Linked DNA regions of Homo sapiens. The protein of the gene in region 6 interacts with the protein of the main gene of each other region in a biochemical or structural test. Each region holds a gene or a part of one and is shown on either strand. Other genes may lie near its edges.

The links.
Region 1: the proteins of HTRA1 (region 6) and KCNT1 interact in a test that uses a peptide from one of them, tested with the Homo sapiens proteins (one large-scale study listed by IntAct).
Region 2: the proteins of HTRA1 (region 6) and AMOTL1 interact in a test that uses a peptide from one of them, tested with the Homo sapiens proteins (one large-scale study listed by IntAct).
Region 3: the proteins of HTRA1 (region 6) and SLC16A7 interact in a test that uses a peptide from one of them, tested with the Homo sapiens proteins (one large-scale study listed by IntAct).
Region 4: the proteins of HTRA1 (region 6) and C3AR1 interact in a test that uses a peptide from one of them, tested with the Homo sapiens proteins (one large-scale study listed by IntAct).
Region 5: the proteins of HTRA1 (region 6) and ARVCF interact in a test that uses a peptide from one of them, tested with the Homo sapiens proteins (one large-scale study listed by IntAct).
Region 7: the proteins of HTRA1 (region 6) and ADGRA1 interact in a test that uses a peptide from one of them, tested with the Homo sapiens proteins (one large-scale study listed by IntAct).

What each region holds. Positions count from the first base shown.
Region 1 is NC_000009.12:135,768,185-135,771,684, reverse strand, and holds part of KCNT1 (potassium channel subfamily T member 1), read right to left. Parts: intron 3,076-3,500; coding exon 3,012-3,075; intron 2,857-3,011; coding exon 2,748-2,856; intron 1,739-2,747; coding exon 1,630-1,738; intron 1,388-1,629; coding exon 1,238-1,387; intron 829-1,237; coding exon 590-828; intron 1-589. UniProt on the Homo sapiens protein: Sodium-activated K(+) channel. Acts as an important mediator of neuronal membrane excitability. Contributes to the delayed outward currents. Regulates neuronal bursting in sensory neurons. Contributes to synaptic development and plasticity.
Region 2 is NC_000011.10:94,862,356-94,865,855, reverse strand, and holds part of AMOTL1 (angiomotin-like protein 1), read right to left. Parts: intron 1,122-3,500; coding exon 996-1,121; intron 1-995. UniProt on the Homo sapiens protein: Inhibits the Wnt/beta-catenin signaling pathway, probably by recruiting CTNNB1 to recycling endosomes and hence preventing its translocation to the nucleus.
Region 3 is NC_000012.12:59,707,529-59,711,028, reverse strand, and holds part of SLC16A7 (monocarboxylate transporter 2), read right to left. Parts: intron 1-3,500. UniProt on the Homo sapiens protein: Proton-coupled monocarboxylate symporter. Catalyzes the rapid transport across the plasma membrane of monocarboxylates such as L-lactate, pyruvate and ketone bodies, acetoacetate, beta-hydroxybutyrate and acetate.
Region 4 is NC_000012.12:8,056,360-8,059,859, forward strand, and holds the end of C3AR1 (C3a anaphylatoxin chemotactic receptor), read right to left. Parts: coding exon 2,378-3,500; 3' UTR 485-2,377; downstream 1-484.
Region 5 is NC_000022.11:20,010,324-20,013,823, forward strand, and holds part of ARVCF (splicing regulator ARVCF), read right to left. Parts: intron 186-3,500; 5' UTR 132-185; intron 1-131. UniProt on the Homo sapiens protein: Contributes to the regulation of alternative splicing of pre-mRNAs.
Region 6 is NC_000010.11:122,510,053-122,513,552, reverse strand, and holds part of HTRA1 (serine protease HTRA1 precursor), read right to left. Parts: intron 3,458-3,500; coding exon 3,400-3,457; intron 1,584-3,399; coding exon 1,488-1,583; intron 1-1,487. UniProt on the Homo sapiens protein: Serine protease with a variety of targets, including extracellular matrix proteins such as fibronectin. HTRA1-generated fibronectin fragments further induce synovial cells to up-regulate MMP1 and MMP3 production.
Region 7 is NC_000010.11:133,086,788-133,090,723, reverse strand, and holds the start of ADGRA1 (adhesion G protein-coupled receptor A1), read right to left. Parts: upstream 2,801-3,936; 5' UTR 2,586-2,800; intron 2,017-2,585; 5' UTR 1,815-2,016; coding exon 1,812-1,814; intron 1-1,811.

The DNA.
Region 1 (3,500 bases), on a different chromosome or scaffold from region 6:
CCCGGGAGGATCCCTGAAGGCACGAGAAGAGGCCAAAGCCCTCGGCCACTGCGACCTCATTCCGCCAACTCCTGGCCCCAGTGGACGTCAGGACTCCCGACTGTTTGAGGGACACACGTGAAGCAGACCCTCCGGGCTGATGGGACCACCAGGAGCCTCCGGTTGAGCTGCCAACCGGTCCTGTGGGCGGCCCCACTTGGACAGGCACTTGGACACAGTGAGCAATGCCCACAAAGGTGGCCACAGGAAGGCGGGGACACCTGTTTGACAGATTCAAAAACAGGCCCAGAGAGACTCCACCTGTCCAAGGTTGGAGGCATAGGCCAAGAGGAACTGGGTCTGGGGGCCACATTGGCCTGGTCTCCTGCCCTGCCCGGTCTGGTCTCCTGTCCCACCTGGTCTCCCGCCCTGCCTGGTCTCCCGTCCCACCTGGTCACCTGCCCCTGTCCTGCCTGGTCTCCTGTCCCACCTGGTCACCTCCCCCTGTCCTGCCTGGTCTCCCATCCCACCTGGTCACCTGCCGGTGTCCCGCCTGGTCTCCCGCCAAAGGAGCAGGCCCAGGGAGTCCCGCGCGCCTGTCCCGGCTCACCCATGGAGGCGATGATGCTGTGCACGGGCAGGCGGGCCGGACCCTCGTGCAGCCCCTGCCCCGAGAAGGCCCTCTTCTTCCGCTTCTCCTCCTGCTTGAAGATGAAGGCCGAGTTCTCCTCCTTGGTGATGTTGATGTAGAAGCAGGTGTCAGAGGCGGCCAGGATGTGCCGGGGCCCCGGGTTCAGCAGGATGCTCTTGTTGTCCTCCCGCTTCAGCCCGATGAGGCACACGCCATACCTGGGCAGAGGCACCGGCAACTTCAGGTACCGCCGCTCACCCGCCCTGTCCCGCTCCCTGCCTGCCCTTCCTGCAAATCACCAGAGTCCCCACCGGAGCTCCGCGTCTTCCTCCTGGGGGCCATTTGGGGTCAGGGACCTTGGCTGAGCCCTCCCGTCCCAGAGGTGTTGGGGACCAGAGAGCTGGGGTCAGCCCACAAGCCTCAGGGAGGAGCCGCGTGGCAGGTTTTTATGTGGACCCGGAGCCCAGTCCTGCGGCTGCCCTCGCCAGGCAGGATGACCTGATGCCCTCCCCCGAGCCCTCTGCAGCCCCGCCCCAGGGCCACCCCTGTGCCTGACCGGGAGGGTGGGGAGGGCACAGAGCAGAGCAGCCCTGGAGCGCCAGCCCTGTGGATGCAGCCCGGCCTTACTTCTTGTGGGCGTGGAAGGCCGCGTAGGTGAAGCTCTTGCCCTCGTACTCGCGGAAGAACTTGCTGTCACCCATGCGGATGTGGTACACCTCGTTGCCGGAGCAGCGCCCATACATGCGCTGCCACTGCTCCGGAGACTCCTGTCCCTCCCTGTGGGCCAGGGCGGGGCCAGGGGAGCGTCACCCTCGGCCATGGCTGCCCCTTCTCCCCGGCTGGGTCTGCAGGTGCCCCCCTCTGCTTCCCCTGGCATGGATCCCCTCCCTATGCAGGACTTTTGCCCGCCATGTGCCCCTCCTCTGGGAAGCCCATCCCCGCCCCCAAGCAGGCCCTGCGTTGTCTCCCTGCGCCGGCCCCGCCATGGAGGTCGGTCCCCCGGGGCACGGGGCACTCACTGGCCGCGGGACGTGTGCACCAGCAGGGTGATGAGGGTGGAGGTCGCCGGGCAGATGCAGTTCAGCGCCAGCATGGCGTACTTGCACTCCTCCTCACACACCACGTGGTCTGCGGGCAGTGGGGGAGGCCGGTCCACCTGCCGCTCTGCCGGCTCTCTCCTCCCCCACAGTACCTGCTCACTTCCTGAAGGTGCTATGCAGATGCACCCTTGCCTGGCACCCCCGTGTCTGCTGTCCGGCTTCAGCATCTCTGCCCCGAGAGTCTGTGGACCTCAACCCCCTACTTGGTCTGAGCCTCGGTGGACCTTCCATCGCTCCTGTGCTTCTCTCCCAGCTCAGCGAGGAGTTCCAGGGCGGGGCAGGCCCTGGCCCCTGTGCCTTGGGCACTCCATGTGGGCCCTGACCCCTGTCCCCTGGGCACCTGGCATGGGGCCTGCCCCCCGTTCCCCGGGCACCCGGCATGGTCCCTGCCCATAGAGGTGCTCATCAGACGGTGCTCCTGCCCCCACCTGACCTCTGACCCTGCCTTCACTGACCCCAGGATCCCAGCATAAGACTTCATCTGAAGAGTTTGGACCCCCTAGGTCCCTTCTCGGATGCGGTGAGGATGGGGGTCTGCCGTCCCCTCCAGCACCTCCTGGTGTGCTTGTGTGAGGAGCTCCAGGGCCAGCCCCTCCCGCTGCCCCACACAGCTCGCCTAACTGCGTGCACATGCGCCCTGCCCCAGACACACCGTCACCCACGTGTGCACACGCGCCCTGCCCCAGACGCACCATCACCCAACAGCATGCACACGCGCCCTGCCCCAGACACACCGACACACACGTGCACACGTGCCCTGCCCCAGATGCACTGTCACCCACGTGTGCACACGCGCCCTGCCCCAGACGCACCGTCACCCACGTGTGCACATGCGCCCTGCCCCAGACGCACCGACACCCACGTGTGCACACGCATCCTGCCCCAGACGCACCGTCACCCACGTGTGCACACGCGTCCTGCCCCAGACGCACCGTCACACATGTGCACATGCGCCCTGCCCCAGATGCACCATCACCCACGTGTGCACACGTGCCCTGCCCCAGATACACCATCACCCACGTGTGCCCCAGACGCACCAGCAAACTTGACGTGAAACTTGTTTTCAGGTTTGAGGATCTGGACGTAGAGGGGGCAGTTGGGGGCGAAGTCCTTCACGGCCCAGGCGCGCAGGATGGTCTGGTGGTCCTGGCGGGGTGGGTGGTTGGTCAGTGCAGACGGGCTGGCCTCTGTGGGCTGCTGGGCGGCACCGGCAGCCTGGGGCAGGTCTCTTCCCTCAGGGACCCCCGCTCCCCGGCCCCACGGTGCCCCTCCCGCCTGGGCAGGGCCTCAGCCTCACTCACTGCAGCCGTGCGGTCCACCTCGTTCCTGCTGCTGAGGATGAAGCAGGCCTCCCCATTGTCCATCCTGCAATGCACCAGGGCCTGAGCGTGGGTGGAGCAGGGGAGGTGGGCAGTGCAGCCGGGGGTGCGGAGGTGAGGTGGGGAGGACCTCCTCTGGGAGGAGGCTGGTGCAGCAGGTGCACAGAAAGAGACTGAGAGGACGGCTGGATGGAAGGCGGAGAGGATGGAAGGCGGGGAGGATGGAAGGCGGGAGGAGGCCCCTACTCTCTGCTGGTCAGGAGTCACAGTGCCCCCTCAGTGGGCATCCCCATACTGCCCCCCCCCCCCCCAACCCACATCACAGTGTCCCCCACGGGCATCCTTGTGTGCCCTCCACCAGCAGGCATCCCTGTGCCCCCCCCACCGGTATCCCAGTGCCCCCCCCCCCCCCCCCGCAGGCATCCTGGGCCTCTCCAGACTCCCTGGCCCATCCCTGGCAGGCTCTGAGCC
Region 2 (3,500 bases), on a different chromosome or scaffold from region 6:
TAATTGTAATTTAGGGATACAGGATGAAGCACAGTACGAGTCTTCAAATGTTGATAATCTCCAAATTGTTAAGACAGGTCTTTTGTCATATGTCAAAAGAGTACACCTTCTCTGGCACCTTGGGAGACTGGGACTTCAGCGAGGTACAGTTAGAATGACCGTGGCCACATTCCTGGACCGAAGTCGGCTGGGGACCATATTTAGAGGGTCTAGCATTGGCGGTGGGGGCCGGGGGTAGGTAGGGGATAGGGAAGCATAAAAACTCTAAAGCCTCAAACAGGGTGAGCTTTCAGCTAAAGTCAATTTCTCTATTTTCTAAGAAAAAAGAACCAAGATGAACAGGTTCTCTGGTAGAAGATGATTTTTCTGGAAGAATGCTGAGTTATTTTCACAACTTTGATAGTAACTCACTGAGCCTATCTATCAATGGCTCAACTACTCAGCCCTATTTTCACATCTGCAAAATAAGAGGCCTAGGGCTCCCAGGGTTCCACAAGCCCTTAGGTAGTGAAGGGGGACAGGCTAGTTTTATTATGTCAAAAAGTCTGCTGGAAATTTTGTGTAGCCCATCAGAAGAGTGCATTAGCTAAATATGTTCTTTATTTTGGACTGGAATATATAAATTCTGGCTCAAAAACTCTGAATCTTTGGGATATAATGTTTCCCCCTTTCAGCTCATAATGTCATAGAGATAGACACCAAGAAATAACACAGACATCTAAATTCTTCTGTCACTAGACTCAGCCTGCATCTTAAAACCGGCAGGTGACACGCAATTTCCCCCAGAGAACTCCGGCACCAGATCCATTGCTGAGTGGAACCACGTGCTTAGGTTGGAACCTTTTCCTTCTCTCCATGGCACAGCATGGGGGAGGAGAGTTTTTGGAGACCTCATGCTCACAGCCTTTCAGAACAGGACAGAGAAGCAATCTGTTCTGGAAGGCCTGGAGTGTGAATGCAGCGGGCCCCACACGTCACACATAGTCGTCCCTTACGTGTATTCCATGTCCTGACACCTTCTGTTGGCCTGCACCACCTCCTCCTCCTCTTGCCAGATGTGGGCCTCCAGCGAGCTCTCTCCGTAGCTGCCATTCCGTGAGTGGTTGATGATCGTGGTGTCCCTGGCAACACAAGGATATGCGTTTGATCATAGGAAACCTTCTTGCTTTGTCTCAATGCAAACAGACACAGAATGGAGAGGCTGGTGTTCATGCTGGAACAGAGATCAGCTCTGCATCTCGCATTGGCTCATGAAGCCTTTCCCTCCCAATTTCCCCAGCTCAGTTATCAATCTCATCTGATGCCCATACAGAGAAAGGTGTAAATGCTTGTGGAGAGGTGATCACAGGGTGCCGTGCTAAAACTCCACAAACTCCTTCACCCACTTTTCCTCTCCTGAATTCTGTCCAATTCTCTTCCTTAACTAGATAGAATTAAGCAGCATCTAAGGAAAACAAAATAAAATTCAAAAATCAAGTCCCCTCCCCCTTCTGACTACATTATGTATGTAGCTACATGGCATGTTATGAATATGTAAAATGGGCACCTAGAGATTTAATCTACTGACTTATGGACACTATTATTATTATTATTATTATTATTATTGTATTTGTTGGTGTTTCCATGCTTGTACTTTTTCATGCTTGTCCTATACCTCACTTTTCCAATCAGAGTTTAGGTTTTATTTCTGTTTATCATCCATACAGCATAGAATGCCTACTTCAGTATTTTACAGTAAAATGGGGGCTCAGTAAATACTTAAAACTGAGACTGGTCCTCTCAGAGAGTGAGGCTCCAAGCTGAAGTCTTCCTTCATGTTGTATTCTGTCTCACTTCTTGTTTTATGGGCCCTGCCTGGGATGCAGGTCAGGACAATGTAATAGGCATGCCAGGGTCCAGGACAGAAAGAAGAAGGCAGACACTGTCCTTGACAAGTTCAGGTGAGGTGGGTGCAGTGAGGGCAAGGGCAGACACGAGAAGATCAAGAAGCAGTTTCACTGCAAGCATCTGTCTGACTATAAACAACCAGTCACAGATAACTATTCCTGCCACTGGTTTTGACAATTTAATTACTACTAACTAACAATGATTAGTAAAAATAAGATCACTGCATCATCTAAGTGATATAGCTCAAGATGAAAGGCACAATAATGGCTCTGACTACATGAGTATTTAATTAGTAAGACATGATGTAGCCAAGTATTTCACATCTTTTAACTTCATATTCCAATGTACAATCATACTGAAAAACTTTTTTTTTTTTGAGATGGAGTTTCATTCTTGTTGCCCAGACTGGAGTGCAGTGGCGTGATCTCAGCTCACTGCAACCTCCACCTCCTGAGTTCAAGCGATTCTCTTGTCTCAGCCTTCCAAGTAGCTGGGATTACAGACATGCGTCACCACATCTGGCTAATTTTGTATTTTTAGTAGAAATGGTGTTTCACCACGTTGGTCAGGCTGGTCTCAAACTCCTGACCTCAGGTGATTCACCCGCCTCAGCCTCCCAGAGTGCTGGGATTACAGACGTGAGCCACCGCGCCCCGCCTGAAAACTTTAAAGCTTTTTTTTTTTTTTTTACAGAATAGCCCAAAACAGAAAAATAGAGGCCCCTTTAATGACAGCTATCAACATTAATGAGCATTTACTTCATACAGGGACTGGGTAGGGCACGGTACACATGGTCTCTCATTTAGTTCTCACAACTTGTGCACAAGGTATTATTATCCTCAATTTCTAGATGAAGAAACCAGGGTTAGGTGACATTTCCAAGAATACTCAGTTAGTGAATAGTGAAAATGGATTCTAACTCAGGTATTTATGACTCCAAAGTCCATGCCCCTAACCATCGCTCTATACTCCTGCAAGTTTCATATGTCTTTAAGAAGAAGGTCTCAGCAAAGATGAGTAAAGATAAAAACAAACCAGAGGGCATATGTGAGAATGTGGCTCAGAAAAGTGCAAAGTGTCATTGAAAATACACTAAAGGCCAAATGATGTAGAAAGCAAACAAAATGCTTTAAACATATTTGCAAAATTATAAATTCACACTATGGTGCACAAAATCATCAATATAGAAATTAGTGGCTAGAAACATTTTCAACAAATTTACTTTTGGAGACTTTACATGGAGCTGGAAACAAATCTGAAAATTCATGTTTACATTGCCAAGTAAGGAGAGCAAACACAATTAGAGGAAAGCAACTTAGATAGTAAATATATAAAACTCTGAAAGAAATATTACATTGCTTTGAAATTTTTAAAAATTTTCAAAACCTTCTGCACACATAAAAGATAAGCTGACTCTCTAAAAATTCTGACCAACACCATCAAGATGCATAAAGATGGGAAAACCAGTTGGTTTACAGAAGTTATTTTCTTTGTTTAAAAATCATTGATTATAAATATAAAGCATGCATCTGTGGTTGAAAAGTCACAAAACTAATGGCTGGAAATAGTCATTTTTACCAATTTGACTGTGGCCATTTAGCACCTAGTCAATA
Region 3 (3,500 bases), on a different chromosome or scaffold from region 6:
GAAATATGAGGCTGAAGTGTTGGTAGACATCTTCCTTGTGCCAGGGGAAGAATATCAACATAAATAAACAAAGCTGCCCTCTGGAAGAAACAGAAGAGAGAAGAGAGAGTGTAACATGCTGGACAAACAGAATTACTGGTGCTAGTTGAGCTGGAAGACATTGGTGTCTCTGCTTCTCCTCTGATTTGTATACATGAACATTTCTCTTTAGGCTTTAGGGTATCTGTATCAGGTTTCTGTCATTTACAACAAAAACACATCTGCATAAAGTGAGTAATGATATAATAACATATTTTTGAAAATTTTTAAGCCAAAAATCAGGAAAGATAGTCTTATTCTTGTCAGGTCATAAATTAATAAATAGGTTCTTTTTATACATCAGTAAGTGAAAGGTTCACTGTCTGAGGCACATATATCAGTCAGAAAAGATTTCAATAAAGGTTCTTAGAATTTCTGTTGAAAATAACATTTAGTAACTATCTGATATTATTTGTACTAGATTATCAGCCCTCTGTAGGGAAAGTGTGTCCTGGAATAATTTCAAAGGCTCTAAGCACACTTCCAATCTGTTGTTGACCTCTGTCCCCTTTCATCCCTGTTTTGGAAGAGACACACAGATTTCATCATAGAAAGCTCCAGGGCCATGATTCCATTCCTACTTTGTGTTTTGAAGTCCTTGCCTCTCACTTTTATTCCATGAAGACTGGCAATGATAATATCCACTCACAACTTCTTTTTCATTTGAGAAAAATGAACATGCTCTGAACACGCTCTGTCTTACTCAGTGACCCCACAGTAGTGATTAATAGGTTGACTGCTAAGCCCTAATGAATGTGTCAGATCTTAGGTGTTCTCTAGGCTACCAAAGGATACCTCTTCTCTAACAGAGATCTGATAGAGTAGCACTTGTACATTTCATGATATAATATAAGCTAAATTGACTAAGGCTATCTCATAGTGTGTTCTCATCCCATGTAATAATTTATATAACTTATATTGTTGTTACACAATAAACCAAGCCCTCATGTTTGTAATGATCAGTATAGTCTATATAACTGTAGAGAAAGGGAAGATGCATGCCAGATCAAACCACCTTGTCCAGGAGGTGTCCAGAGGGACAGATGTCCTTCCGCTTATATTTAATTGGTCAGAACTAGTCACTTGGCCTCAGCCTAAGGGGAGGAAAGCTGGGAAATATAGAGGAGTGCATGGATGCACGGTGAGCATAATAGTTTCTGCCACACTGTACCATATTTCATAGAAAGCTTTAGTAATATTTATGCCTACAGATGAAAAAAAGAGTCTAACATGGCATAGATATAAAAAGTCCACAGCCTACTTGCACAGGGCTGTCAAAGTGTACCTGGTACTTTTTGCTTTTTATAAATCTAAGATGAAAGCTCTACCTATCTCAAACACAGGAATGGAATGACTTTCTTTTTTTATTGCTGCTAAGATATTGCACAGCATGAATTATTTTAATAGCCTCCCTCATTCTGCAAAATATTAGGGCACAATGTAGAATAATATATTGAGCTTATTTAAAATTTTAAGAGAATAGAAAAATACATATTGTACATTATGACCACCAACCTGCTATGTTAAAGCCTTTTGCTTCTCGGCCTCCAGTAAAATAAGCTCAGTGTTCTAATGTTCAATCCCCATGTAAAGTAGTTCATCACAAAACTATCACCCTTACTTTAGCACAATTGGCCGTCACTATTCACATAAAACAGAAAAATAAGTTACCATGGAGACAAAGCCAATTCTTCTCTCCAGAATGGCTGATTCTTCCAAGTCAGAATAGATTTTTACCAGAAAAGTCATATAAAGTACTCACAGAAACTGGCAGTCCAAATCTGTCGCCAGTAACTGTAGAGGTAACCATATATAGATTATCATTCAATAGAATACAAAAACAAATATTGCACTAAAAGATAATCCTATGTAATCACTATTTACAAAATAAAACCCTATGTCCTTCTAAACAGTGTAGAAAGTTTAAATTATGTTTTCTACCTCTACTTAGTGCTTTATTAATGGGGTGACCACACTGTTTGACCTATTTGCTAAAATTTGCTAGATCTCCAGGAGAACATATGGACATCCAGATGGATTGCTGTAATGTGATGCCATTATTCTAAGGATGAAGTAAGGTATAAACATAATTTGCATTCTTTTCCATCCTTCCTGCGAACCTTTCATTAGTTTCATTTTTAATTCAGACATCAGAAGGGAAGATAATACCTTGCTACCAAAGCCCAGATACCAACTAATTACTACAAGAGACTCCAGTCCTGACATCACAGGCCAGGCCTCTGAACATGCTCCATCTTACTCAGTGACCCCACAGTAGTGATTAATAGGTTGACTGCTAAGCCCTAATGAATGTGTCAGATCTTAGGTGTTCTCTAGGCTAATGCAATTAGCATTGTGTTGAACAGAATATTTCAGCTACTTGCTAGAGAGACTCATTATACTTCACAGTAAACTATGTCTTTTCACCTTTGCTCTCCAAATTTTTTTTATAATCATCAACCTAAAAGGCTCCTATAAATATATTTCACATAGTGTAAGAAAATTTAAGTATTTTAAAATCAAATAGTGATTTTCTTCTACAACAGTGAACCCCTGTGTTGTATATAAAGTGAAGTTGTTTTCAGAGATGCTTGTTAAAATGCAAGTTTCTGAACTCTAACAACAGAAATCCTGATAAAAGGGGATTTGGGATAAGGCCTAGGACTTCATTTTTAACAAGACTCATGACTCAGAAGCTAAGCATTCTGTAGACCACAGTTGAAGAAAGACTGCAATGTGAGTAACAGGACTAATACCTGTGTCTTAGATTAACTGACTATATCAGACTTTTTGTTCTAAATAGTTACTATGTTTCTGAAAAAAAATTATCTGCATCCACATTAAGAAAATTATTTCCACATTAGATTATAATTTTAAATGTGCCAATTATTTTTGGTTAAAAGATTAGAAACTAATTATCAGGATAAGACATAGATGTTATTTCCAACAAACTATGTAAACGTGTAAGATCTATATTCAACAGTGGACATGGCAGGTAAAAGCATTTTCATCCACTAGACAATGGGCCTAGAATTGTGTTTCCAGTTTTAAAAGAAGGACCAAAGGTGAGCAGAATTTCTGCAATTCCTGACTTTTCTCTATGGCCAGAGATGAAACATTTGCATGTTTTAGCCCCGATAATGGAGGACTTTAGGCAATATTCCAGGTACTTACTTGGATCTCACCTAGATATTGCCTTCATCAATTACTAAATACCAAGAATTTGTATGTATCTAGCACTGCTTTCACAAAACAAGCATATATAAAATCCCTGTTAATATTTAACTTAGACATATTTTATTCATCTATCACCCTAAAAATTTTAAGGCAGCTTTTTCCAAATTTATAACTATTTTAACAAACTACCATTTTCTTCATGAATTTCAGAAGAGTTCTTTTGTGCTTTTAAAAAATTATACCAT
Region 4 (3,500 bases), on a different chromosome or scaffold from region 6:
GAGATCGTGCCAAGTGTGCCACTGTGCTCTAGCCTGGGCTACAGAGTGATACTTCATCTCAAAAAAAAAAAGAAAAGATATTATACTTTGGACAGGAGCTGTGTTCCCATCTGGGACTTCCTGGAGAAGATACAGTACAAAATAGTTACAGGTACTCACCAGGTTTTCATCAGAAATGAGGGAGCTCTAATTGTAGGAATTTCTTCAGAATACATTTCCAAAGCAAATGGAAAAGAAAAGGAGTCCAGAAATGCTGATTACTCGTTGTACATTAAATCTTTATAACTGCGTCAAGATTATTCACCTTGATATCCTATACACTAACCCCAGGAGTTTAGGTCTTATTCCCAGGGTCTTATGGGATGTGCTGGGGTTTCTGGAAGCCTGGCTAATTGCTATTATAGCAAGTCTATAGTCACTCACTAGGAGACTTATTTGCTGCATATTTAGAGATGTGATATATTCTGAATGTGAAACAAAAGGATTCATAAATCTCTGAGCCTCGCAAGGACCCATGAGAAAAAAAGCATTTATTCATATCAAATATATAAGCAAATTAATATATAAGCTGGAAAGGTAGCACTTCAAATCTTATGTCAGACATTCTTCACAACTGAAAGAATTCCTAGTGATTTGTAATTTTTCTGCATATACTTTATAAAAAATCTGTAGTCCAGACCCTCACCTCAGCCATTGAACAGATAGTGTCTTGCAGGTCTAAAACACATGTCATTTTCTGTTTTTAGACTACATCATTGTATTTGGTTTAGATGAGGCCACGTTGTGATACAAACAAGCCAGAAATTTCAGACGTTTGACACAAACATTTATATATACAGAAAAATGAGAAGGTGGTAGGGAGTTAGGTAATTTTGTTTTAAATGAAAAAGGGACAGAAGGAAAGCTATATAAATGGTTGGAGTGTATAGACAAAGTAGAAGAAAAATATGTGGTCATGAATGAATTAAAATATGGTTATTAATGAATGTTGGGATGCTGGATAAACAAATTAAAAATATGGGGTGCTTGGATAAACATCTTCATCTTTCAAAACAAGAAGTCGTTTTATCATGCCTCCAGAAAAGAGCAGCATAAGCACATGATTTAGAAACATCATGATAATTATCAAAGGAAACATCTAAAATTGTGCAAGGATTATCTCTGGGAAATGAGAGTGGGAGGAGGGAACTTTTGGGCACAGTGAGGTAGGAGACCTCATATTTCATTATATACCTTATTAAATTATTTTAAAACTATGTGCATGTATTACTTTGGCAAAGAAAAGGATTTAAAAAACCCAGAAGATATATTTGGTAATTTTGGCATGTAAGTTGCCTGTCGTCATGTTTTAAAATGTGATGGCAAGCCTGGTAGGGTACTCAGTTGCAGAGAGTAGAAGAATTGCTGCTCCATCCTCCACCCTCTTTCTCCTTCCACTTGAAATACTTTCTTAGAAAGTATTCATTTGGAGCAAGAGGAAGGGAGTAACTAGAATCTTACGAAATTAGAGGTTGTTTGAGGCACAAAGTCTGATGTGGAAGATTTGGAGGCTGGGGAGTAATAAGGAAATTAAGGAGCTTAGGAAGAGGAGTGGAAAATAGGTGCCCAACCGGTAGGCAGTTAGAAGAAACAGAACTCCCCAAACCACAGCTTTCATAACATTTCATGAGTCAGTTTTCACACAATAGATGCTTATTTAGTTGTAATAGTGGAAACTCTATGTAATAGTGGAAATTTCTATATCCTGTACCCAGGGGTGTTCCCAGGGACAGGCATCATTGCATAACCCTATGCTCCAGACTCAGTCTCATGGCTTCTTGTCTTCACAGGCATTTTCTTTTTGCACTTTCTTTTCGTTTAAAACCATCAACACCACACGACAACAAAGCATTAGGATATATGATCATCTTTCACTCACGTAGGAGAACAAGAAATGGTTTTAAATGGAATCTGGAAGACTTAGACAATGCTAAGGAAAAATTTAATGATGGAAATATCGACAAATATTCAACATCATTTAAAAACAAAGTAGCTTCTCTTATTTCACATAGCTTAGTTTGGGATAGAAATAGAACTAATGTTTACAATGATTCTTACATTTAGCATTAATCAGAAACGAGGGTTTGTTAAGTGCCCTTGCTGGGTCCCAACCCCCAGAGATTCCGATTCAGCAAGTCTGGGATGCGGCTTGAGAATTTGCATTTCTAACAAGTTTCTAGGTGATGCTGATGTCAATAGTCTGTGTACCGTTTGAGAACCGCTGGATTGATTCTTTGACAGTTTTTGAAGTCCGCTGCTCACCATATCACTTCATCCTCTTATAAACTTTCACTATGTGATTGCCTAAGAGCCCCTGCTTGTTGGCTGCTCCACATTTTCACACAGTTGTACTATTTCTTTCTGAAATGACATTGTTTGAGGGACAGTGGGTGGAACGTGTGAGCTCCTCACTGAAGGCTGCCTCCAGAATTCCCTGAATGGACTGCCTTGCTTTCTTCCTAAAATCTTTCCCCAAGAGGGCATAAAGGAAGGGATTAAAGCAACTATTGGCAGATGCTAGAGCAATGCATACATGATCCCAGGACATCAGAGTTTTCCCCAAGGGAGTTTCTGGGTCAGTAAGCAATGACAGGACTCCAAAAATGTGGTATGGAGTCCAGCAGACAAGAAAGACAGCCACCACCACCACGGCCACTCGAAAGGTTTTGCTCTGAGACTTGGCGAAGCGGCCCCTTTGCATTCGGAAGACAATGAAGCTGTAACAGGCTATCATGATAACAGAGGGCAGCAGGAAACCCACCACTAGCCTAGTGATCGTTATTGCCACGAGGGGTGTTGGCACTTGATCGTCATCTGTGAATTGGCCTAAATTGTAATAATCCTGGAAACCTTGTGGTAGCTCAGACTCGTAGAAGGAATTGCTAGAAGCGCTAGGGAACAGCTTTAAATGAGTAGAGAGAAAAGCATCAGAGTTATCCAGTGGGCTGGTTTCGTGATCTTCAATAGGAAACCCACTGGGGATTTTAGGTGAGACCACATCAGCAGGTTTAAATACATTAGAATACAGATTTTGACTTGTTAACCTAGCAGAACCCCTAGGGAGTGAATCTGCAGAAGGTCTTTGAAATGTTTGAGGTTGGAAGACAGTGGGGACTGTCCAAGGATGATCATTTGTTTGGAAAGAGGAAGGATCTAACCTATCATTCATTTCTCCAGGCGGCTGAACAATGTTTTCAAGAGACCTGTTTTCTAGTGGATCTCCATAAAAGTCTGGATAATCTAATGAGCTGGAGAGACCAAATTTGTAGCCACATCTATTATGGTTGTCTGTAGTGAAGATTTCCCGGTACACGAACACAGGAATGCACATCACAAAAGCCACCACCCAGATACATCCACAGATAGAGCAGGCCATCCCTACATTGCGATGATTCTGACACCAGATTGGCTTGAATACCACAAGACAGCGATCCAGGCTAATGGCAGTAAGCAGGAAGACA
Region 5 (3,500 bases), on a different chromosome or scaffold from region 6:
GTGAGAAGGACCAGGAGCACACAGTGTCCAGGGCCAGTCCATCCCTGTCACCCCCACCCGCCAGGCCCACCAGAACACTCTGCTGTCCTATGTGGGAGAGGATGTCCCCAAGCTAAACCCAGGCCACTCACCTGTCTTGAGGGAAGATCAGCATGTCCCGACACCCACCCTGCAGGCTCTGGCTCCTGCAGGGAAACCAGAGGGCATGAGTGAGGTCAATCCAGCTGGGTAGGTCCCTGCCGGATAAAGGTACACAAGCCCAGACCGTCCTCTAAGCAGGACCTTGTCATGCCTGATCTGAAGGTCATCCCGTGGTGCTCCTGACTCATAACCACACACTCATGTGTACCTTCTTGCCCCCACATGTCCAGGACTGTAGGTGACACTGGGCTGCCACGGTTCCTTGTCAGCATGTCTAATGCTGTTGACCATCCTTCAGAAACGTGATCCTTCAGAGATGTGGACTGATAATGACGTCTTCCCCATCACACACAGCACAGCAGTATTCCCACCCCAGGGTAGCCAGGCTCAGGGTCCTGTTGCCCCACGCAGGTGCTCACAGCCCCATAAGACATCTGCTCCACCTCCCTAGAGTCCGCTCCCGCCTTGTGGGCGAGGCCACGTGCCTCTCCTGAGGTTCCCTGAGGCCAACATAGATCCTGGGCCCTCCCAGGCAGGCAGCTGCCCCCAACAGTCTCCAGTACAGGGAGGGCGGGGAAGCAGGCAGGTTCCTGGCCCTGGAGCTGTGGCCAGGTGTGAATAACCATTTGTCTGGGATGGGGGACCTGGCACTCAAGCCTGGGGAGCTGAGGCTTATGGGCTGGAGCAGGAGACAAGGGGGTGCCTGTACTCACACAGCTTTCAGCCTTCCTCAGGGGAGGACCCTGCGGCTTCCTGTCTCAGCTAATGGCCCCGGGGACACATTCCCTCTCCTTATATCTAGGCCCGGGGATATTGCCAGAGTGTTCATGTCATAAAAATGAAAAACAGGACACTGCAGACAGACAGGGAAGGGCTGGGCCTCGGATGGGAGGCTGTCTCTGGGGGACATCGGTAATGAGAGCTCTCTCCCCCGCCTCTACGGTGTTTTCTAGATTGTTCTGAGGCCCCGCCCAATAGTCCTTTGTGGTCATGGTCCATTCTGGTGCCCCAACGGTGTGTTTCCCCGTCTCACGACAGCCTCTTCATCATGGGAAGGGGTCCAAGTGAGGGTGGGCGACTGGCTACGCCTCAGGGTGGGATCATGGGGGGTGGGATGCAGGGCCTGAGGCAGGGAAGAACTGGGGACCAAGCCAGGCACATGTGCATATGCATGTGCGTGCATGTGAATATGAGTGTGTGTGTGCACCTGAGATGGGCAGGCCCGGTTGGGAGCCCATCCACCAGCACTGCGCCCCGAGGAAGAGGAGATGCTGCTCCTACTCCAAGGTCTGAGGCTTAGGAACCAGCTTTTGCTCTGAGTGTGACATTTCTAGGAAACCTCTGGTTTTAGCTTAAGTGTTCACATAGGTTTTGTACCACAGAGAACCATGTGACTTTTTTTTTTTATCCCTGATAAGCACCAGCCTCTCCCCCGGAGTCACCATGTGCCACAGAACCGAGACACACTGGCTGTGAGCCGTCATCTCACTGACTCTACCAGGTGTCTCAGGTTGGCTATATACCCCATTTTACACATGGAGAAACTGGGTCCCAGCCAGACAAGGGCTGGGCCAGGATTTAACTCAGGTCTTCCTGCCTCCAGGCCTCCCAAAGTCCCCCCCCCCCACCCAGTTGGGGAAGTGTGACCAAAGGAGAACATGGGTCCTTCCTCATGGGCCTCCTACCTCATGGGGTCCAGCCAGGCCAAGAACCTGCAACCATATGGTAGAGCCAATAGCAGACCCTGGGAAGGGGTCCAAGTGAGGCATTGGAGAGGGCTTCCCCCAGGAGATGGGTGGGAGCAGAGGATAGCAGCACCACAGGAGGCTGAGTGGTAGGAGCAGCCAGAGCTGTGGGTATCCTTCCTAAGGGTGCACTAGGCACATCAGCATCGTACAGGCAGGGGCAGAGCAGAGCATCTGTGGACAACCTAAGGGAGCTCTGGGCAGTGGACGGACAGAGGGACGACAGACAGGACAGTGATGTGAAGGCAGAACTAGTGATAGGATCATATGGGAAGGTGGGGAGGTGCTCACCTTGGGGAGCCCCCCTGAGTGCTCTGCAAGCTCTGGGGTCACCTGCCTGGCCAAGGACCCAGTACCAGCCGCCTCAAAGCGGGGGAATGACCACGCCCTTTATTGGGCCCTTTTCCCAGTGAGGATGGCCTGGGCCTACCCATGCCATGGGACCCCCACACTGGGTCTCCCCACCAAACTGTCCAGACCCGATGGCTGGCCATGGGGCTCTGTCAGCCCCTGGCTACACCCCACTGATGCCCTAGTAAGCCCTGTGGTTCTGGCACGGTATCCATGGTCCAACCAGAGGGCTGAGAGGTCTCACACTGGGGCATAAGCCTGGCCCAGGCCACACAGCCAGATTGGCAAGCTACAGTCCTTTGGATAGCTGACGGCACAGGGCAGCTCCCATGGGTACACACTGGGCCCAGAACTGGGATGGAGGATGCAGCCTGGGCTGGGTAGGCAATGAGGGGCCCAGGTGAGCTCGCTCTGCACTCCCTGCAGTGTGGCCTCAGCAGGCCACCCCCTCCCCAAGTCTCCTCGCTTCCTGCTCTATGAGCGCGAGGTGACACTGACTGTAGGTAGCTGAGAACATGCCCTGGCAACAGCCAATGCAGGCAGGTGAATGGAGTGCCCCGTGGCCAGTGGACAGGGAAGGTCCATGCTGCTCAATGACAATGCTGTCCACTACAGCAAAACCGAGTGTTCTCCTAGGCCTGCTGCCACCCTGGGCACATAGTGAGAACACGCCCACTTCTGCTGTGGACATTGAGGCACAGACCACACCTGGGAAGGCTTGGGAGGCCCCTGGGCACACACTTGAAGGACACTGCACTTTTGGGGCTACGCAGGCACAGGGCTAGTCCTTCACTGTCCCTGCTGAGCCTGTGTGTGGTCACCCACCAGCTGGCCTTCAGGCTTCCTTCTGCCTGCACCAAGCATGTTGGGGGTACCGAGGGGCCTTGCTTGGCTCCTTTCCAACTCCACGCCCTCAATAGGCGGCTTGGAGGCCGAGCTCCGGTCATCCAAGCCAGGTGTCTGGGGAAGGGTCCTGGTCTGCCGCAGGAAGCTGGGTGGAGCCGGTCTTGCCTGCTGTGGCGGTCCCAGCTGCCCTCTGGTGGCCATGCTCAGCTCCCCGTTGCTCTGCCAGAGGCGGCAGCCCCTCAATCAGCAGGGGCAGTGGGAAGGGCCTGTGCATAACTGGTTATGGAGTGGGGGGAACTCTGTGGCCCCAGGCACCCACCAGCTCTGGGTCATCTTCCCGACCTGAAACAGGCCAAGATATGAAGGCCCTGAGCCAGGAAAACCTACTAAGGGATCCCTGATCCCAAGTCCCCTCAG
Region 6 (3,500 bases):
AGTAGCTGGGATTACATGCATGTGCCAGGATGCTGGGCTCCTTTTGAGATTTTTAGGCTAAATCATCCATTGTGTCCACTGTAGAAATGCCTACTAACACTTGTGTGGCTTTATGACCCCAAGGAGATCAAAGGTCAAGATTGACCCCAAAGTGGGGAAGGATGTACCAGGTACTATCTGCCACGTAGTTGGCCAGATATCTGCCAGATAGTTGGCCACTATCTGGCCAACTTGCTTATAATGGGTATTGCAACTCAGAATGCAGTTCCTATAGGGGTGGGCGGAATGTTTCTGTTAAGAGGCACTTCCTTTGTGTGGTTGCCACTATAACTGTAGCTCTTATATAGCTCAGCGTCAAAACGCTGTCATGGTCCTTCATGGGCTAGCACAAGGGTCTGCAAACTTTTTCTGTAAAGGGCTCCATAGGAAATATTTTAGGCTTTGCAGTACATATGGTCTCTGTTGAAGCTACTCAACTCTGCTGTTCCAGCACAAAAGCCACCATAGATGTCATAAACCAAATTACAGTGGACACTGAAATTTGAATTTCATACAAATTTAACATGTCACAAAATACTATTCTTATTTCAGGATTTTTTCAACCATTTAAATGTTCTCATAAGTGGGAACTAAGCTACGAGGACACAAAGGCATAAGAATGATACAATGGACTCTGGGGACTCAAGGGGAAAGGCTGGGACAGGGATGAGGGATAAAAGACTACAAATTGGGTTCAGTGTACACTGCTTGGGTGATGGGTGCACCAAAACCTCACAAATCACCACCAAAGAACTTACTCATGTAACCAAATACCACCTGTTCCCCCAAAAACCTATGAAAATAAAAAATAAGTAAAAATAAAAATAAAATGCAAAAACTATTCTTAGCCCACAGCTCCATATAAAAGCAGGCAGTGGGCCAGATCCAGCCCCCAAGGCACATTTGCTGGTCCCTGGTCTCGCACTTTTCTCTGGATATTCCGCCAATACAGGTAACAAACCCTGATGGATGGTTGAGCTACTTCTTGTCATGTTACTTTGATATCACTTGGGTTATTTTTCTGGAGGTGTTGACAGGTATGGGCCTAATTGTCAGAGACATTCTGGAAGACTCCAGGAAGAGAAGGGTCCTGAAGCCTAGAAAAGGACCACCAAGTGAGGGCTTGGGGACACTGTTCCTGAAACCCTCTCTCTGGCCAGCCGGGCCATCTCAGAGACTCATTACGAGTCTGCTATTGCTCTGTCCATCTGGAGGGTCCTCGTGGAGCAAGGACTTTTGAAGACAGAAGGCACCCTCCTATGGATGAGTCCCGAGCCGAGCCAGGTCGGAAGGCCTGGCCAGCAGGAATGACAAGCAACGTCCGACCACGTCTGTCAAGGATCAACATAATCATCTGAGCCAGTAGAAAAGGAACAGCGCTCCCTCTTCCTGCTACCCCCACAGGAACAACAAGAATATTGGGAAAAGAGAAAACGACTCCAACTCACGCTTCTGCTGGGGTATCAGGAATTACTTCAATTATATACGCTCCTGAGATCACGTCTGGGAAGTCCCGGTGCCGGTCCTTCAGCTCTTTGGCTTTGCTGCTCCAGAGAAAAAGCACCCGTGTTAGTGTGAAGAAACACCAGGCCTTCCTCACGCAAAACTCAGCTCTCACCAGTTCCCGTCTTCTCCTTAGGTCTAAGGTAAAATTCCTCCAGGAATTCTGATCCTATTTTAAAATTAAAATTGCCTGTCTACCAGAGTCAAAGATTTACTTGGTAACAGCAAGGAAAGTGCTTTATTATTTATTTATTTTTTTTATTTATTTTTTTTTTTTTGAGACAGAGTCTTGCTCTGTCGCCCAGGCTGGAGTGCAGTGGTACGATCTCAGTTCACTGCAACCTACATATCCCGGGTTCAAGCAATTCTCCTGCCTCAGCCACCCGAGTAGCTGGGATTACAGGTGCCTGCCACCAAGCCCGGCTAATTTTTTATATTTTTAGTAGAAACAGGGTTTCACAAATTGGCCAGGCTGGTCTCGAACTCCTGGCCTCAAGTGATCTGCCCGCCTTGGCCTCCCAAAGTGCTGGGATTACAGATGTGAGCCACCGCACCCAGCCATCATCATTGTTATTATTTCTTAATTAATAGTAGCTATTACTAAGGAGTCAGTAAAGTACAGTGGTTGGCCTGGTTTGCAGCCCTAGCTCGGCCATTTGCTAGCTGTGTGACCTCGGACAGTTGCTTAACTTCTCTGTGCCTTCATTTCCTCACCTGCAAAATGGGGATAATAACAGTACCCTACAACATGAGTTGTGAGGATCAGATGAGATCATCCCAGTAAGGCACCTGGCCCAGTACGTGTGATACATAGTGGCTGGCATCACTGTGGCTGGTGACCCCTGCCACCACTCCCTGATCTGAGCCTGGCCACACATCAGAAGCACCTGCGCTGTCATCCCTATCCTGAAGAGGAGGAAACTGAGGCACTCAGGGGTCATATCGTTCCCAAGGTCACAAGGCAGGACATATCAGAGCAGGGACAGGAACCCAGGAAGCTGGGCACCAAGGGCTTACCATCTTTCCCTACACCTCGTAGTTCCAAAGGCAAACAACTGAGGGGACACTTTAACCTTGACAAATGGCTCCATCTTCTGGAGTGCTAAGAAAGGGACCACCATTCATAACATGTATCAAAATATATTAATACTTTCACAGTGAGTGAATCATTAATTCATCATAGTAATGAACACATTAATCTATCTGTTACTATATTCTAGTCTTTACCTACTTTACCTCTGACAGTTTTAGCCATGCCAGGTGAGTCTACTACCAGGACTCATGAGATTACACCAGAATTTTTCATCCAGTTTAGAACACCAGGATGCCATGAGCCTGCCAACCACAGGCCGCAATTCCACCAGCTCGGGGAAAACAAGCACATCAGTCATTCACTTCCCTGCGCTGGACCTGCCCTGGCATTCCTGGAGCCGCGGCCCACGAGCTGCAGAGCAACGAAAGCAGAGTGCCTAGAGCTGCGGGAGGGGCTTGGGGCCCTCCTGGAATGTGGGTTTCAACAGAATGTGGGGTAAGGAAGACGTGAGCCAGAGTGAATCAACAGCCCCACCACGCACACACTGTTCAGGCCTGCCTTCAAAGAGGAGGGCAGAACCTTCTACACCGGAGGGCCTGCTGCCAGTGAAGAAAACCAGCTCAGAATGCAAAAACACAGGTTAAAACCAAACAAAGGGGCCAAGGCTAATGACCTGTCCTCTTTCCCGATGCTACTTCATTATAAGCAGAAACTGAGACGTCTTAAGGCAGCATAAGGTTTCTCTTTCAGGGGTGCCCGTGAGCACCTTCTGAAGTTCAGGTTTATTAAAATTTAAGACACAGACACGCATCCTGTTTACCCACCTGGACGTGAGTGACATCATTCGGATACCAATATACTTCTTCTTGGTGATGGCTTTTCCTGGTGAGACAACAAAGGGACAGCAGAAGGTCAGCCCAGTTGG
Region 7 (3,936 bases), about 11 Mb from region 6:
GAGCCCCCCAGAGCACAGCAGTGGGGCAGGCAGAGTCAGGGCCACCCTGCCCTGGCCACGGCCTCCAGGCTTCCTTCTCAAGACCCCATGGCCATGGGGTGAGCCTGCCCAGGTATCTACGCTGTGAACTTGGAGACACGTGCTGTGAATTACGCTGTCACACTACGCTGTGAACTTGGAGACACATGCAGAAAAATGCTGCACCAGACTGATGCAGCACGGGAGGGCAACTCCTCACACTTTCAGAGATTTTCTCAGGTGCAAATGTTACTTGTTGTGAATAAAAACAGTGAGCTGCTGAAATGCCACACTCTCCAGGCAGATCGAGCTCAGCAGGCTTTCACAGTCTTGGGTGAGCAGGAGCTCTGGGCTGCCAGGCCGGCTGGGACCGGGTGGCCCCGGGCCGAGGAGGTGGTAGCAGGAAGCTCCACCAGGAGCCAGGAGCTGAGAGGAGAGTGCACGAACAGGCTCAGCCTGCGAGGGGTGGTGCCCTTCTTGGATTGGGGAGGCCCCCGCACAGTTGTTCGCAGAAGGGCCAAGGGTTAGAGAGGAGGAGGCGAGGAAGGGGATGAGAGGGACCCCCGGGCTGCGGCAGCACCCCCACCTTCAGAAGCCCTTCTCCGTTCACTGTCCTCTGTCAATGACAGTTTTCCATTTTGCAAATAAGGGTCTCAATTTGAGGCTGAAAAGCCACAGATCCTGCCAACTGGGAGGCCTGGGGCTGCGCTGGGTGTGGTACCTGCGGGGCAACAGCGATGGTTCCTGAGGCTGGTGGGAGCCTGGGGGCAGGCAGGAGCCCTGGGGCTGGCCTGCTGCCCCCTGAGGTGCTGCTGGTGCTGGAGACGCAACCTTGTCAGGTGTCTGAAAGGTAAGTGCGGAGACCTCAGCCAGCCTCAGAGGTGAAGCAGCCACTGGAAGACGATACTGAATGTTGGCAAAGGCATCTCTCTTGCTTGGACATTTCGAACGGAACAAGAAGAAAATGAGCAAGTGACTCAGACCGATGGCTCCTTATGCAGCGAACACTGGGTCTGCTCCGAAGCACGCCAGCCGGCGTCTGTGGCGGCCGCACATTCTAGAGGCCATTGGCATTCTCTGCACGTGCCCTGGGTCCTCACCGCCTGTCAGCTGTCCCTTACCAGCACACACAATGCATTGTTCACTCAGCTGTCAGCCCTTCCGGAACCCAGACATTCAGCAACTGCAGCAAAAGCTTGCTGGTGCCTCAGGGAGGGACCCACGATGGGCTCGGCTAGCCGATCCAGCCAGCTGCCAGCCACGAGCCCCTTCCCGCTGAAACACCCTTCCCGTGCCTGCCGTGTGCGCGGCCGCCTTCTCTCCGCCACAGCCTCCACTGCTGAAGCCCACCTACGTCTGTCCGCACTGCCTTTCATCAACTTTCTAATGGGAAGGGGCCGGCAGGGTGGCGTGGAGGAGGCCGGTGACCAGGGTGGAGGGGCTTGGGGTGGCAGGGACCCCAGCCCAGGCACAGACCAGGTTTTCACAGGGCACGGATGCCAGCTTTGCGGGAGGGACGTCGCCTCCATTGATTAAATGATTCCACATTGCCATATGCCTGCAACTCATTAGTATGATCAGCACCCAGCACGCGGGGAGCAGAGGTGCCCAGACACGCGGCCTGTCCCCGGCCCCCACTCCACAGAGCCTCCCACCCCGGCACTGAGCCCGGAAGCCCGGTCACCAGCTCGCCATTCCACAACTTTTCCAGCCTGGGAGTCCCCATACGGGTGGCCGCCCCCCCGCAGCGGCCTAGCCCCCAGCTGCAGGACCCCCGGGACCCCCGTACTCACCATGAGCGCTGCAAAGTTGCGGAAGCGTGAGCGCCGCTGGAGGAGGCGTCCAGGGGGAGGCGATCAGGTGGCGCCCTGCTCCCCGCCAGCCTCCATGGCCTCTGGAAGGTCAAAGTCCCAGACGGCGGCCAGGAGGTCGCGCTCCCGGGCCCCTGGCCTCAGGGTGACCGCGGCGGGGCGGGCGCAGTCCGGGAGCTGCTCCCATCTGTGAAGACAGCGGCGGTCAGCGGGGCGGGCGGAGGGTCCCCGCGGAGGGCAGCTCGCAGCCCCGACCCCGCCAGGGAGCAGCCGCGGCCCCTGTCGCTCCCTCCCCTCCGCGGGCGGCCTGGGGGCTGCGCCTGGGGCTGGCGGAGGCGGTGCCGGTGGGGACCGGTGGGGGGCTCGGACCGAACGCGCCAGCGGCAGATGCGTCTCCTTCTCCATATTTAAAAATCAATCTGCGCCCCACTCCCGGCTCCGGAGCCAAACTCAACCATCTCGGGCTGCACAAAGCCAGAGGCGCGCCGGGGGGTTTGCACCGGGAACCGGCACCGAGTGACCCGCCCGCCCCAGCCCGGCCGCGGCGCCTGCTCTGCCTGGATGTGGCTCGAGCTCCGGGCCGGGCGCGCGGGGCGGGGGCCCTGGATTATCCGTGGCGCCTCCCGCCCCAGCGGAGCCGAAAGTTACTCGGAGCTGCTTTCCTCGCGGCCAGTGTCACCTCGGGGCGCGAGCTTTTCTGCCGAGCCGCGGCCCCGCGCGTCCCTCCCGCCGCCCAGACCCGCGCGTCCTTCCCACCTGCTGTGGCCGAAGCGGCTGCCGGGGCGGCCGGGCCGCGCTCCCGGAGACAGACGCGCTGCGCTCCCCCCGCCGGGGACCCGCTCTCCATTCGCGAGGGCAGCGGCCGAGCTGGGACCGAGTTATCAACAGATTGCGGGGCTGCGGCGCCGGCCGGTGAGTCACAGCCCCGCGCACGAGCGGCCCAGCCCGGCCAGCAGCGCCGCCGCCTCTGCGCGCACCTCCCGCGGCGACAGCGGGGACCCGGGGCCGGAGGCAGGCGCGTAACCATGGGGACCGGGGCGGGCGATGGCGGCGGGCGGGCTCCTGCCGCAGGGTGGGGATGGCTCTTCCAGCCGGGCGGCCGCCGTCACACTGCAGAGCGTATTTAAAGAGACACCTCGCTCCGCGCTCGCTCCCCAGCACCAGACCCTCGCCCGAAAACGCCGCCGGGCGGACTGCACGACCCTGTGTTATTCCCAAAGACAATCTCCATCCGTGGAGAAGCTGCAGGAACAGAAATATACACAAGAAAATGGATTTGGAAGGAATTTTCCATCCTTTATTTAACATTCTCAAGTCCAGATATGCCAGAACCGAGGTGCACCTGTCGTGAACCCGTCTGAGTGTGAGTCAGCAGGGCAGCCGCAGCCGGTGTAGACAGACAGGGCCTGTGGCTGTGCAGAAAGCGTCCCTGTCCCCCTACCCCAACCCTCCTGCATCCTGGGCCACAGAGCTGGGCATCCAGAGCCAAGGCGAGTGTGGAGGCCAGGGTGCCAGGGGCGGCGCAGCCCAGCCTCCCACCCGCAGCGAGGTTTGGGCTCTGCACACATCCCACAGGTCCCTATCCTGCCCCAAGGGGCCTCCTACCCGACAAGGTGGGTCCAAGTCCACTCCAGTTTTCGTCACAAACTCCGTTTTCTGGGGCACGTGCTGGCCTGGTGGCAGCCTCAGCAAGAGTCTCAGGAACTGCCCTGGGGGACTCCACACCCCTCCACCTGTTCCCCCTTTGGCCCTGGGTGACCCCACACCCCTCCACCTGTTCCCCCTTTGGCCCTGGGTGACCCCACACCCCTCCACCTGTTCCCTCCTTGGCCTCCACCCTTGCATGGCTACTTCTGCCCCAGGTTCTGTGACACTGGCGCCTGTTCAGGGGGTCCCCAGGCCCTGCTGCCATGGATTTTGAGGGGCCTGAAGGATGTACTATTGGGAGGTTGTCATGAAGACTCACAGAGGCAGAATTAGATGCAGGGGTGACAGCGTTCCGCTTCCCCGGCCTCTCATTATGGGGCTTTTGAGCGGGATGTGCTCAGGGCCCCACTGCCCCATCTAGCTGGTGTTCCCAGAGCCCCTCTGTGGGGACACTGTGCTG